Regions from separate parts of the Homo sapiens genome. Here region 2 is linked to region 1. Evidence: fine-mapped expression QTL. Tissue or cell type: unexposed skin. Region 1 holds a variant in brackets; the other region holds the start of a gene. All regions are shown on one strand. Distances are from middle to middle.

The links. PIP is the estimated chance that this variant, and not a neighbour inherited with it, causes the effect.
Region 2: LINC01659 starts here. The variant in region 1 is fine-mapped to the expression of LINC01659 in unexposed skin (GTEx, PIP above 0.99).

The regions. Positions count from the first base shown.
Region 1 is chr22:23,450,495-23,458,346 of GRCh38, reverse strand. No RefSeq gene overlaps it. Among named protein-coding and RNA genes, the nearest start is that of LINC01659, 21 kb to the right of the region's middle. RefSeq lists enhancers at 6,015-6,661, 7,208-7,709. The variant C/A (reference allele first, on the strand shown) is at 3,829.
Region 2 is chr22:23,429,683-23,436,955 of GRCh38, reverse strand. LINC01659 (long intergenic non-protein coding RNA 1659) reads right to left here and starts at 3,392. Exons shown (of 3, transcript NR_110538.1): 1 at 2,895-3,392; 2 at 2,226-2,396; 3 at 1,885-2,132. RefSeq lists enhancers at 613-1,304, 4,871-5,716.

The sequences.
Region 1 (7,852 bases):
CGGCCCTTCGCCCTCCTCCCAACCCAGGGCTGGCAACCTGGCTGGGCCTGGGGCACTGTGGTGCAGACTCTGGCCAGGCTGGACCAAAGAATAGCTGTTCTCCAGGCACCCGCCTTCCCCGGCCCTCAGAGGCTGGCAGGCTTTGGGAGCCTGGCTGTTCATTTCTAAAACAATTTTTTTTTAGAGATGAGTCTCACTCTGTCACCCAGGCTGGAGTGCAGTGGCATGATGATGGGTCACTCAGCCTCGAGCTCCTGGGCTCAAGTGATCCACCTCAGCCTCCTGAGCAGTTGGAATGACAGGCATGTGCCAGCACACCTGGCTAATTTTTAAATTTTTTTGAGAGATAGATAGGCTTTAGCTATGTTGCCCAGGCTGGTCTCAAACTCCTGGCCTGACGTGATCCTCCTGCCTCAGCTGCTCATGACGTGAGGATTACAGGTGTGATCTCTGATCATTCTTTATTTGAAACAGGTGCACCCTGCCAGCATCAGCAAGACAGCTGCTCCCAATGGTAGGCCGGGCCGCCCACTCACGGCTCCTACAGCACTTCCTCTCTGCTGGCCTCAGGCGGCTCTGGAAGAATGACGCCCTAAGATACCGCACTGCCCTCCAGGTGGGGGTGGGGGTGGACGGAGACAGGCAGGAGTGACCAGTGCTACTCTCCCAGCTCAAACCCTACACGAAGGCAGACCCAGCGTTTGCAAAACACCAGCCCCCTGTGAACAAGTCGACCTGCCGTGCAGCCCACCTCTGACTCCGTTTCCCCCAGCATACCCGGCCGCATTGGGAGGCTCCACCTCGGTCCAACACTCCGGCATTAGCAGGACCTGCTGAATGAGTGGCACCGGGCCCATCCATCTCTGCCATCTCTGCTCAGCCCTCTGCCATGTTCAAATATCACACAGTCCCCAGGTACCTCGTAAATCACTGTAATTAGGGGCTGCTCACTTAAAATTAGAGCGCAATTTTTTAAAAAGCAAATTGTCAGTAAGACACGTTGGCTGTGGCTGGAAATATTTATGAGGCTGCCTGCGCGCAGGCTCTGGCTTCCTCTCCCTCTGTCTGGCCGGCCCGAGCTGCCACCTGTCTAGTCTGCACACATAGCGGCCATGTGGCTGGCGGGTGCCCTGGGGGAGACTGAGACACTCACTCTTAATGAAGACACTCGCGGCGTCCATTGTGGCCACTGCACTCCAGTCCAGACCCCGGCTGGCCTGGCCTGGCCTGGGGCTCACCTGCCCCTCTGGAAGCAGAGAGGGCCTGCCCTGGAGGGCCGGGGACCTCTGCAGCACGTCCGTGGAACACGTGGGCCAGGGAGTGTGTGCCCGGCCCCCATTCCAGCTCTGCCACGTGAGCAGTGCTCACACGGTGCCTAGGGCTGAGGGGTCTTACTAAGCGCTGGTCCCACCATCCCGAGCCGAGCCCCATGGTGTCCCAGCGGGCACGGACAAGAGGCACGGAGTGAGGGAGGGGTGGAGGCTGACAAAGTGCTTGGAGAGCAGAGACAGCGCCTCTCTCCACACACCACCAACTGCAGGATGTGGTGGGGCTCGGAGGCCAAGGGGGAAGTGTGAGGGATTCCTGTCAAGAACAAGACCCCCTGCTGCTGAGGGTCCAAGAGAAACTCCATGAACGGGGAAACTCAAGGGGAGGAAGCTAGAGATGGAATGAAGGAAGCCCTGAATCCTGGCTCAAACAAGCAAAGCTGAAATAATGCAGTAAAATGAGAAGACACGCAGGAAATGGAAACGATGCTACTTCGAGATACTGGGAAGTTATGTGAATGCTGTTCATCTGTGGGGTGGTGTGAAGAGGTGGAGGCCACACCAGTGGACATCAAAACCAGAAACCAGTCAGAGAAGGACAACAGGAAAACTGTAAGTGCCTGGAAATCAAACAGCACACTTCTAAGTAATCCACGAGTCAAATGGGATGCCTCGAAGGAAATAAAAAAGAGAACAGAATGGAAACAAGAATACAGCATAATGAAATTTGCCAGACGCACCCAAGGCAGTGCTTAGAGGGAAACAGACAGCACTCAATGCCAGTATCAGGAAAGGAGAAAGATCTCAAATTGCTTCTCTAAATTCCTACTTCAAGAAACGCAGGGAGAAACAAGCCCGAAGCAGGAGGAGGAAATAATAAAAGTAGGAATGAATAGGAAAACAAAAGACAGTTATTAAAACCAAAAACTGGTTCTTTAAAAAATAGCAATAAGGCCGGCCAGGAGCAGGGGCTCACACCTGTAATCTTTGCACTTTGGGAGGCCAAGGTGAGAGGATCACTTGAGCCCTGGAGTTTGAGACCAGCCTGGACAACACAGTGAGACCCCATCTCTATAATCAATCAGCCAGGTGTGGTGGCATATACCTGTAGCCCCAGGTATGTGGGATCACGTGGGCCTAGGAGTTTGAGGCTGTAGTGAGCTATGATCACACCACTGCACTCCAGCCTGGGCAACAGAGTGAAACCCTGTCTCAAAAATTTGTTAAAAAGACCAGCAACAATAAATTGATAAACCCCTCGCAAAACTGACAAAGATTAAAAAGGGGGAACGCCTGTAATCCCAGCACTTTGGGAGGCCAAGGCAGGGCATCACGAGGTCAGGAGATCGAGACCATCCTGGCTAACACAGTGAAACCCCATCTCTACTAAAAATACAAAAAATTAGCTGGGTGTGGTGGTGGGTGCCTGTAGTCCCAGCTCCTTGGGAGGCTGAGGCAGGAGAATGGCATGAACCCAGGAGGCAGAGCTTGCAGTGAGCCGAGATCATGCCACTGTACTCCAGCCTGAGCAACACAGCAAGACTTCATCTCAAAAAAAAGAAAGGGGGGAGAGTGAAATGACCAATATCAGAAATGAAATGGAAATATTATAATAGATCCAGAAGCTATTAAAATAACAATAAAAAATACTACAACAAAACTTGATGCTCATAACGAACTGGACGGATTCGTCGAAAACCACATACTACCAAAACGTGCCAAGATAAAATAGCCTCGGTAGTCCTATAACCATTAAATAAATCGAGTTTGTTGTAATTAAAATGCTACTCAAAATCTCCAGTCCCAGATGGTTTCACTAGAAAGTTTTACCGAACATTAAATATGAATTAATACCAATTTTACACAATCCTTTTTCAGTTAACAAAAGACAGGGAAACACCTTTCCACTATTAACCTTGTACTGAAACCAACAAGGATGGTGCGCACACACAGAAAAATAAGTATCAGTCTCTCATGAACTTAGATGCAAAAATACTCAACAAGTACTAACAAATGGAATCCAGCAATCTACGAAAAAGAGTATCACACCCTGACCAAGTGGGATTCAGTTTAGGTGTACAACGAAGGCTAGTTCAAATTTGAAAATCAATCAATGTTATTCACCCTATCAACAGGCTAAAGGAAAACAATGATATGATCCTATTGACACAGGCAAAGCATTTGACAAAATTTAATCTCCATTCCTGACAAGAACTCTTGCAAAGCAGGAATCAAGGGAAAGTCCTCCGACTTGGTAAAAAGCACCATGAAGAACCCTCAGCTCACGCTGCTTCACGGAGGAGTCTGGCCGCCTTCCCTCATTCGGTCAGCGGAGAGCTGGCTTTCCCCACTCATCCTCAACCCAGCATGGGAGCTCCTCACGCCAGGGCATGCAGGTAAGAAAAGGAAAGCAGCAGCATAGGGATTGGAAAAGAACAGAACTGTCCCTACTCGCAAATGACATGATGGCCCACGTGGAAAACCCTAAGCAATCTGCAGAAAACTCCTAGAATGACGTGACGGCCCACGTGGAAAACCCTAAGCAATCTGCAGAAAACTC[C/A]TAGAATGACGTGACAGCCCATGTAGAAAATCCTGAGCAATCTGCAGAAAACTCCTCGAACACTAAGTGAGTTCACGAAGGTTGCAGGAAATAAGATGAACATACAAAAATTAACCACATTTCTATAAAGCAATGGCAAACAAGTGAAAAACAAAATTAAAAGGCAATATAATTTACAGAACATCTTAAATACTTGGGTATAAATCTAACAAAAACTTGTATAGTGTCTGTTTGCAGAAAGTTAGGAAATACTGATGAAAGGAATCAAAAGAATGTTTGTATAAATAGATACAATGTTTATGAACTGGAAGACTTATAGTAAATCAATTTTTCCAAAATTGATCTTTGGTTTTAAGGTAATTGCTGTCTAAACCTCAGCATATATATATATATATATATATATATATATATTTTTTTTTTTTTTTTTTTTTTTTTTTTTTGGAAAGAGGGTCTTATTCTGTCACCCAGGCTGGAGTGCAGTGGTGTGGTCTTGGCTCACTGCAGCCTCAAGCAATCTTCCTGCCTCAACGTGCCAAGTAGCTGTAACTACAGGTGCGCACCACCACTCATGGCTGTGTTTTTTTCATAGAGATGGGGTCTCCCTGTGTTGCCCAGGCTGGTCTCCAACTCCTGGGCTCAAGCGATCCTTTTGCCTTGGCTTCCCCAAGTGTTGGGATTACCGGTGTGAGCCACCATGCCTGGCCAGCATCTTTTTTTTTTTTTTTTTTTTGGTAGAGAGACACAAGATTATTCTAAAATGTATATGGAAAGCCATTCCAAAAAAGAAGAGTAGGGGAATTGCCCTTCCTGATGTTGAGAACTGTACAGCTACAGCACAGCGTTATACAGCTCCTACATCAGACAGACATGGCTGGGGCAGCGCTGGAGGGGAGATGTGGAGACCAGCGGAACAGAACAGAGGAACTCGAAAGAGACCCACAGACGTGTCCAGGCCACTTTCTAACAGAGAATATTATGCCGTGACCAAGTGGGACTTAGTTTAGGTGTACGAGGCTAGCTTGGTATTTGAAAATCAATCAATGTAATCTGCTATATCAACAGGCTAAAGAATAAACAACATATGATCCTATTAATCGATACAGAAAAGTCACAAAAAAGTCACAAAGGTGCTTCAGTGGAGGAGGGGCAGTCTTGTCTTTGCTACAGCTGGAGCCGGAGCAGCTGGACACACTTAGTTAAAAAAAAATTTTTTTTTGACCGAAACCTCACATCTCATATAAAATTTAACTCAAACTGTATCATGAACTTACATGTAAAACACAGAATTATTTTAAAAAAGAAATCTTCAGGATCTGGATGAGGCAGAGCTCTGACACTCAACACCAAAGCACAATCCATAGAATAAAATTAAAATGGATAAATGGGCCTCGCCAAAATTTTAGGAAATTGCACAGTGGAAGAGCCTGTGAAGCAGACACAAGGACAAGCTACACAACAGGGCGCCAGCGTCTCCCTGCCCATCTCTCCTAGAACGCCACGGCCACAGAGGACCCCAGCACCTGGAGGGGCCAGTGCACAGAACCCGGAGGGGGGTGACTGCAGCGTCTTAACCCCAAGTGGGATTCCTGCCCGTGCCCTGGCCCCACAGGGCAAGGCCCACATCTGTCTTGCTTCTCTCTTTTCCCAGAACAGACTTCACCAGGCTGGAGAGTGGCCTGGGCACAGAGGCCGGGGCTGTGGCATCAGCAGCCATCGTGAGGGCAGAGCGCCCGGCGTTCTCAGACACACCCCTGCTCCCACTGGCCTTCCTGGGAGAAGCACCCCCTTGTTCCAGATGAGAAGCCGCAGCTGCTGGGCTGGGGGAGGCATGAATATTCCATGCTCAGATCTGCAAGCGCCATGCACCTAACTGGACACAGCTCCAGGCGCCTGCTTCCCTGAAGCCCAATCCTCCTGTCCTTGGTGTGCTGCAAGCGCCACTCCCGAGCAGGGCTGTGTGTGGGGAGAGGAGAGGAAAGGAGCCCTTGGGGGAAGTTATGCTGGGAGCCCATTTGTGGGGGGAGGGAGAGCGGGAAGCAAGGTGCATGAGGATGGGGTGTCCTGCAGCTGGGTCCTGACTGGGGGCTGCTCCCTCTCCTGGGCCTAGGCACTGCAGGAAAACGGCAGGTAGTTAGCCTGCCACCACCTCCCAGCCACCACCACACACCCTCGACGACCTTCCAGATAGACGGCTCGATCCTGACTTGAGCACTGCCGGCCCCAACACCTCCCCTCTTACACCACCTGCTTGTGTGGGCCTGGTGGCAGAGCTGCCGACGTCGGGGGCTTTCACACCCACCAGAACTAGCTTCTAACCTCGGCTTGGCCACCAGGAAGCTGCGTGACCCTGGGCACACCGACACACCTCTCTGAGCCTGGTCTGCATGCTGGGCATTGCCGAGAAGACTAACAAAGTCAGGTGCGTAAAATCACCGGGCTCAGGGGAGACACCGAGCACAGTGGGATGAGGAAACCCTGTGCCCACGTTACCCCGGGCCATGAGGACGGCAGCTGCCCCGTGCCCTGGTGCCATCGGATGGCCTCTACTGGGAAGTGAGCTGCTCCCGGCCTTGTCCCCACCTCGCTGCAGCAGGACTGGTTGTCTGCCAGGCCCCGGAGCCCCCAGGCTTCCCACAGAGGCTCCCCCACCAGGACCCGTGGGAGAGGAGATGGGCGTGCCTGGCTGGCATCTGCCGGGGCAGCCACAGGTCCCTGTGAACCTCGCTTGTAGAAGACACCTGCTCTCAAAGCCAGCGAAGGGGAGATTTTTTTTTGTCTTGAGGCTGTAAGGAAATCAGTGTTTTCAACTTCAAAAGACTCTCCGGGCTTCTCAAGTTGAGAATCTGACGCATTCCAGGCACTTTCATGCACACATGGGGCGAGCCGGGGAGAAGACTCAGCAGCGTCCGCCGAGAGTCAGCCTTGAACTTCAGGGGTGAGAAAACCCTTCAAGTTCACACTGCAGCACGACACACACTCTCACACCCACACTCACAGAGTGCAAAAGGACCCTTAGAAAATCTTCAAAATGTTAATGGCGGTTAACTCGGAGTGTTGGGATGGAAAGTGACTCATGGTTCTCTGCATTTTCCAGATTTTTTTATATGCTGCATATTTGTAATTAGGAAAAATGTATATCTAAATTATATCTGCAAGAGCGGAACAGCTTCGAGACAGGCCGCTGAGCACACGGGTTCCCCACTGCGGACACATGCAAGCCCCAATCCTTATCCACCTGGCCTGCAACCCTCAGGCGTCTTGCTCGTCTGCCCGTCTGCCTGGAGCGTCTCCAGACACTCTGTGGGAGGCCCCTCTGTGGGCTGCTGAGGCCGGTGCTGCCCACCCACCTGCCCCAGATGTCCTGGGCTTGGGGTGCCACGCTGGCGTCATGGCTGGCATCTTGGCTGGTGGCACCACAGACGCCAGGCGTGGGTCACAGCGTGAGCCCAGCCAGCTGGTTGGGGTGGGTGGCGCTGGTCAGGTGGCCACAGCAGAGTCCGCTGAGGCCACCTGTCATAGGGCTGCTGCTGAGGTGTGAGAGACACGGGCCCATGCCCCTCGGCACCCAGTGGCCAGGGCACCCAGGTTGGGCTTGTGCGAATCCCAGGTGGGGCACAGCTCTGTCTGTCCACGGGTCTTTGCGGTGCCCGTCTGAGCGCCTGTGAACAGTGCTGGGCAGTCTCACCATGCACACAACTCTGCACGAGCCTCCACGGCCAGGGCTGCCCTCCCTTCCCTAAAAAGTCTCAGGGGCTGAAGGCCTTGGACCATGGCATCAGGGTCCAGAGGTGATAAACCTGGGTAATGTGTGCCCTCATCCCAGCGGGTGCTGCTGGAGGTTAGAGGTTAGCAGAGTCCCAGCCCCGGGGTTAGAGGTCAGCACAGTCCCAGCCCCGGGGTTGGAGGTCAGCATAGTCCCAGCCCCAGGGTTGGCGGTCGGCACTGTCCCAGCCCCGGGCGGGGTTGGCGGCCGGCACAGTCCCAGCCCTGGGGTTAGCACAGTCCCAGCTTGGCTTCATGACCT
Region 2 (7,273 bases), 21 kb after region 1:
ACCCGGTGCCATGGCCTGGGGAGTGCTTGGCTCTCAGGCCAGCTGCCCGCAGGAGAAGCTGGGACTGGGGCGGGGAACCAGCCTGTTCGCTTCCGAGTGGGGCTGACAAACCCCCAGCCTCTTCACAAAGCCTCCAAAAACGGAATGTCGTGGGGAACTGGACGCAGATCCACAGGGCCATAGAGAGCATTTCCGGCTTAGTCAAGGGAGTAACTTTTTAACAGTTTAAATGCGCGTGATGGGATGTGCAGGCTTGGGAGGCAGTGGACCAGATAAAACCATTGGCCAGAAGATACAGAAGGGCTCTAGGCCGCCCAGGCCCTTCAGTTAGAACATCCCCCACCCCTCCCCCCCGGCTCCCAGGGCAACGTCAGAGACCATCTGGATGGAGGATGGGGCTGGTCCTGGCTTCTCACAGTTTGGGAGGTGGGGCAGCTGGGCACCAGGTCAGCAAGCCACAGGTCCACCCACAGCCAAGGCCCAGGCTCCCCGCCTCCCCCCGTAACCACCTAGACACAGAGCACAGACCCTGCCTGGCCATCGGCCCTCCAATCCCTGCTGGAAGATGTGCCCAGGCGGAGCAGGACCCCCGCATTACTGCTGCGCGTCCAGCACCTGCAGCGGGGCCCAGCACGGTGGGCATTCCACATGGGCGAGGGCCAGACGAGTGAGCCACACCCCACCCTTTACTCAACCATCCCCCATGAGGACGACATCAGAGTCGTCCCCCAAGCCCAGGTCTGACACTCTCTTTCCCCAACTTTGGCCTGGAGCCCGAGGCCTACCCCTCTGCTCTCCCTGCACGCTGGGTGCCCTGGAGCCGGTGAGCATGAGCACGTGAGATCCTGAGGCCAGAAACATCTCCCCAACCCAGCCAGACAAACTCTAATTCACCTGTGAGCCCCAGCTCCAGGCCACCTCCTCCAGGCAGCCTTCCTTGACTGCAGTGCACCCTGGGGTATCTGGGAGACGCCTCTGCACAGTCTTTGAATCGGGCTGTACAAGTATCTGTCCTAGCGGCAGCAGAGCCGCGTCATAAACAGTAAAACAAGCCCGGCGCGGTGGCTCACACCTGTAATCCCAGCACTTTGGGAGGCCAAGGCAGATGGATCACCTGAGCTCAGGAGTTCGAGACCAGCCTGGCCAACATGGCAAAACCCCGTCTCTACTAAAAATACAAAAAAAGCCAGGCATGGTGTCGGGTGCCTGTAATCCCAGCTACTCGGGAGGCTGAGGCAGGAGAATCACTTGAGCCCGGGAGGCAGAGGTTGCAGTGAGCCAAGATCGCACCACTGCACTCCAGCCTGGGCAACAGAATGAGACTCCATCTGACAACAAAACAAAACAAAACAATAAAACAGCAACAGCAGCTCAGGGCTCCTGCAGTTCAAGGTTTTAGCGGCCTGGGCATGCGGTTTCTCTGCCTACTTGGACCTGAGCAGCCTCCCTCTGCCCAATGTCACTGCACACTCCCTGCATGCCCCAGCCCTGACTCGGGTGAGTGGACCATGCAGACGGCGAGAGGCCATGCAGGCCAAGCCAGGATAGAGCGAACCCTGGCGGGGCCAGGTGGTCCCCGTGTGTTTGCAGCCTGGATGTGATGCCCACATCTCTGGGCCAGGCACAGCTCTCCACTGTCGGCGGCTGGTGGGATTAGATGTGACCAAGGCCGCTCCCGGGCCGGCTCTACTCTGTGGGGGGCAGGTGCGGCTCTGGGGGTCCTGTTGGGCCTGAGCACGTCCCGATAACCTGGCTGCTGCCCACTGCCCAAGCGCCAGAGCACTCGGCCACCAATGAGAGCTGTGCTTCCCTGGTCCTGGGTTAAAAATATCCCCGTAAGTGACAAGACTTTGAGAATTTCGTCTCTCCAGTCACTCACATGGGGGGCGAGGACAGCTCTTGGCTCCGCGTCTCGCCCGGCTGCATCTGATGGCTCCCTGGGCTGAAGCTGCATCTCATGAAACAGACGAGAAGTCATTCACAGCCCGACAGCACAGGCACAGAAATTTGCTGTTTTATACCAAGTTGGGCGGCCTGTCATCTAGAAGCTTCTGTCCTGACCTCCTCAGCGAAGAGGAAGTCATGGAACCAGCTGCTGAGCCTCCTGACCTCGGCCTGGCCTCTCCTGGCAGCTGTGGGCCCCAGGATGAAAGCGGGCACCACGTCACTCACGAGACAGAAGCTGTCGTTCTCAGAGCCTCCCAGGTGAGTGGCCGGGCGCCTACCTGAAGCTGGACGAGCCCACAGTGGCTGAGGCCAGTGGGGACCCAAGGGGCCGGTCCGGCCTTCCCGGACCACCAAGGAAGGTGGGCGCTGCTTCCCTCGCAGTGCAGATGGTCTCGGCCGTCACTCTGCTGTCCCTCTCCTGGCTGTGAGCTCAGCTTCAGTGTCCCCACCTGTGAAATGGGGAGACCCCCAATCCTTCTGGGCGGGTGCCTTGCCTCTGCCCTCGCATGAGTCTCCCCTTTCTGAGCTGGGATTCCATCTCTCCTGGGAATCAGGTGCTGCCTGGCTGAGAACCCGGTAGCCAGGCACAATCACGCCGTCACCACCCCAGCCCTCAACCAGACCCTGCCTGCTCGCCGCGCTCGGCCGCCATCTTCCTGTGGACGCCACTTACCCTCCGGCGTCGCCATCGGCTGCAAATTGCCTTGTTTTTCATCTTTGGCAGGGCTCAAAATTTGATCATGAAAGGGAATTTTCTTTTTTCTTTCTTAATTAGTACTTGGTAATATCACCAAGCTGTGAGTTTATGGCTTTGTAGATCTTGTGTGTTTGACACTAATTACTCACAAAGGCTTTTAAAGCTGCATTTCAACTCTGCAACCACCATGCCAGTAATTAAGCTAGAGGAAGCGGCAACAGATTTCATTTTTCACAGACACCCTTCCCACCTGTGCTCCCGCTCCGTGTGGCCGCAGCCCCCGTGGCCCTGTGGAAACCCAGCAGCTCCTTGCGGCTCCGGCCCTGGAGGCCTGAGGTGGCCTTGCCTCCAGGAGCCCGGGCTCAGCCGTCACAGCCGGGCAGGTACAATCAGGACGAGCTCCCTGTGAGACTGGGGACCCAGGCCCAGTCCCAACCCAGGTGAAGGTCCCTTCCTTCTGCCCCAGAGACGACTAACGAGCAGCTCCCCTGGCTGCCCCAGAGCCCCCCACAGGGGCCGTGGCTTCTGACCCTTCAGACTCAGCTGTTCCCAGGGGCCCTGCTTCTGCCCCGCCCGCCCCCACGGCTGCACTCAAGCCTGCGCTGTGCACACCGAGGCCAGCTGAGTACCGGATAGGACCTGGGCTGAGGCTGCCCAGCTCACAGGGAAGCAGAAGCCGAGAGACCAAGAAGAAAACATCCCCCAACTGGCTGACAGTCGCCCTCCTCGACCCCAGATGCCACTAAGAACAACGCAAAGTTCTGGCGCGCAGGGAGGGAAGTCCGTGTTGACTTGGGGGCGGGTCTGCAGCAGGAAGGCTGGGCACACCCTCCACTGGCTGCTCACTAACTCCCCTGCTGGCAGAACCTTCCGCTGCACAAGCAGAGGAGAAAGGAAGGCGTGGAAGAGAGCAGGTGGCCCACGGGCTGGGAGGGGCAGGGAGAGGAAAGGCGGCAAGGTTCCCAGCAAAAGAGAAGACGCCACTCCGAGAACCCCGGGAGGTATAAGGGAACCCTGTTTAGTAACGCTGCATGTGCAACAGATAACACGTAGTTCACGTGCACAGATGTGTGCAAACATCTATGATGTAACCGAGCGGGGCTGTGCAGAGCAACTGTTACAGTCTGAACTGTGTCCCCCAAATTTAGATACTAACCTAATCCCCATGTGACTGTATTTGGAAATAGGACCTTTAAGGAGGGAAGTCAAGTCTGATGAAGGTCATAAGGGTGGGTCCTGATCCAGCAGGGGCACCAGAGCTCTCCAAGTGCACAGGAGAAAGGCCACACAGGAATACAAGGGGCGGCCGTCCACAAGCCGGGAGGAGAGTCCTCCCCAGGGGCCAACTCCGGTGACCCTTGATCTCAGATTTCAGCCTCCAGAACTGTGTGAGACACACATCTGCGGTCTCAGCCCCCGCTGTGGGGCTCTGTGACGGCAGCCCCAGCCAGACCAGCAGAGTGGTGGACACGGCCAGGTCTTATTTTGGTGAACTAGCCCCTTGGCTCCACAGATCTCTGTAACGTGCTTATGTGGGAGGATGGTAGGGGCACGGCAGCCCCACCTAGGAAGCAAGGTCTCCACAACCATGGGTCATGTTAAACCAGCTCCTTCTCTGGAGGCTAAGGGCCTCACGTGGTCAACTGCAGCCCAAGGTCCTGAGCCCCCTGTCTGGTCCAACACCAGGTGCTTTGTCTCTCTTCTCCTTCGCACAGGTGGTCACCCTGCTGGACGCTGCCCCTTTCCCCACTGTCCTCACCCACCGAGACCAGGTCCTACCACAATAAAAGGACTCTGGTTAGGGCTTTATGGAGTCACCAGCCTTTCAGAGACACATGCTACAATACTTGAATGATTGCAGCTAAATTGATTACGATACCTTGGATTTGCTTCAGAATAATCCAGGAAGGGGGAAGAGGGTGGGATGGGCTCACAGGGACTTCTCGATGCTGTTTTCCATATTTTTATATATATGCTTAAAACTTTCCATGGCAAAAAGTGAAAATAAACACAAACAGAAACCAAACCAAAAGCTAAAAGATGACAACTCATCCTAACCAGGCCAGGGTGACCTCCTCTCAAAACCCAGGCTCTGGAAGGACATCTCGCTCTTACCCCCAGAAGGTGACATCCTTGGCCCCAGAGCCCCTGCCAGGGCTGCCCGGTCTTTACCCCTCTGCCCAAGGCCACACGCACAGGATGTCAACAGTATTTGTAGAATTAGCGAGGCAGCATGGGAAGGTGCGGTTCCATCTCCAGGCCCCCCGCCCTGGTCCTCCTCCCACTGGGTCTTAACTCCCCGAGGGGCCACAACGCTTCAATGCGTGAGGTGCCGTGTGCCTCTCCACCCAGGAAAGTGTGCACAAGCACACTCCGTGCTGCCTATAATTCTGGGAACGACAGGGGTCTATGAAGCCCACCCAAGTTCCTGGAATACAGACCCCTGCCCTGAGCTCGCAGCGGAACCCCCATGCTGCTGCTCCTCCTCACATGTGGATCTGGGACGTCATGCTGGGCAACTGAGACCAGGTCTGCCTTCATGTTGTAAACAACTAGAAAAATGAACAAAATACACACAGTAACTGTTCACAGACACTGGGCTGTCTAAAGACAGAGAAACAAATGAAGTGAACCTCTGAACACCCCTTGCTCTACCCAGTGGTCTCTTCCAGGCTTGGCGCCGTGGGGTACAGCTCAAGCTCAGCATGATGGTCCTGCTGAGAGGAAGGGAGGATCTGTGGAGGGCGGAGCTGTGCACAGAAGGCTTCTGGCAACCTGGAGAAAGGTCTCGCTGAGCTGCTGAGTAATACACTCTACGCACACAGCATGCAACTCCACAAGGCTGAACCAAGCACATCGGGGAGCTGTCAGGGAACAACTCCAGAGGTCACGCAGGACCGGGGACAGGCACATGCCGACCAGCCAGAGCAAGTGTTCTTGCTGAGCACCCAGGTCATCTGCTAGGAACCTCAGAAGGGTCATGTCTTAGTAGCAGAGTTAAACTAGCCCTGGAATAAAAGCAAATCCATACAAGCCCCAAGAGAGTGTGAAAACAGTTCTTGAAAGGATCAAGCTGACCCCAAAATAACTTAACTGCTTGCCAGAAAAAGCCCAATACTCTTCAAAGAAAGAACAAGGAAATTTGCACCCTTTCATACACTTAACATAAAATTAACAATTACCATCATACAATCAAAAATTACTAAGCATGCAAAAAAAGGAAAATGTGTTCTATAGCTAGGAGAAAACTCAGCCAATAGAAATAAGTCCAGAAATGATGAAATCAGCAGACAAGGATTTTAAAACAGCAATTATAAATATGCTGCAGAATTTACAGGAAAACCTGAACACAGTGAAGGGGATGGCTGCTAGCTCCCAGGATGGCCCTGAGCGACCCTGCTTCCTGGCAGTCACACCCTGGTGCTGTCTCCTCCCACATCATACCAAGGTTGGCCTACATGATCAATTGAAAACGGCAGAGCCAGGCATGGTGGTGTGCACCTGTAGTCCCAGCTACTCAGGAGGCTGAGACGGGAGGATCACGAGCCCAGGAGTTCAAAGTTGCAGTGAGCTATAACAGTGCTGCTGCACTCCAGCCTGGGTGACAGAGCAAGACTCTGTCTCAAAAAAAAAAAAAAAAAAAAAAAAAAAAGGCAGATGTGATAGTAGATCAACTCCAAGATTATGTTATAAAATACACTGTAGCTTCCATCTTGGGCTGGCTCTGTCTGTCTCTTCCTAACTCATTCAACACTCACTCTGCGTTGAACGCTGCCATGTTGTGAGGACACTCAAGCAGACCTATGGAGAGGTCCATATGGAGAGAAAGTGAAGTCTCCTGCCAAGGGCCACCTAAATGAATTTGGGCACATCATCTGGCCCCTGTCAAGCCTTCAGCTTTGCAACCCAGGACAAAAGCCCCTAACTGCACCCTCTGACGAGAATCTGGGCCAAAACCATCCAGCTAAACTGCTCTGGGTTCCTGAATTTCAAAAACTTCACGAGACAACAAATGCCTGCTGTTTTAGGTGCTAACTTCTGGAGAAAGTTGTTACGTAGCAACAGACTACAAAAATGAAGGAGAAACCAAAGATATGAAAAAAATAACCAAATAGACCTTTTAGGCATGAAAAACAAATGAAATTTTAAAACTCCACTGAATGAAATCAAGGGCAGGTTAGATACTCCAGGATAAAAGGTCAGTGAACTTAAAGACAGGAACAGAAACTATCCAAATTAAAGCACAGAAAAAAGATTGAGAACCAAAAAACAAAAAGTACAAAGCTTCAGTAATTAGGATAATATTAGTGACTTAAAATATGTAAAACTGGAGTACTGGAAAAAGGGGAGGGGAACAGAAAAAATACTTAAAGAAACAATGGCCAAAATTTCCCAAATCTGACTAACTATAAATCCATAAATCCAAGGAGCTCAATGAACCATAAGCAGGATAAATACAAAGAAAATCAGCTGGGGGTGGGGTGTATATTATATACAAAGTACAAAGATAAGACTACTAGCAGACTTCTTGTCAGAACCCATGCAAGCCAGAAAACAACAAAACAAACGTTCTTAAGATGCTTAAAAAAAATGACTGTCGACACAGAATTCTATATCCAGTGAAAATAT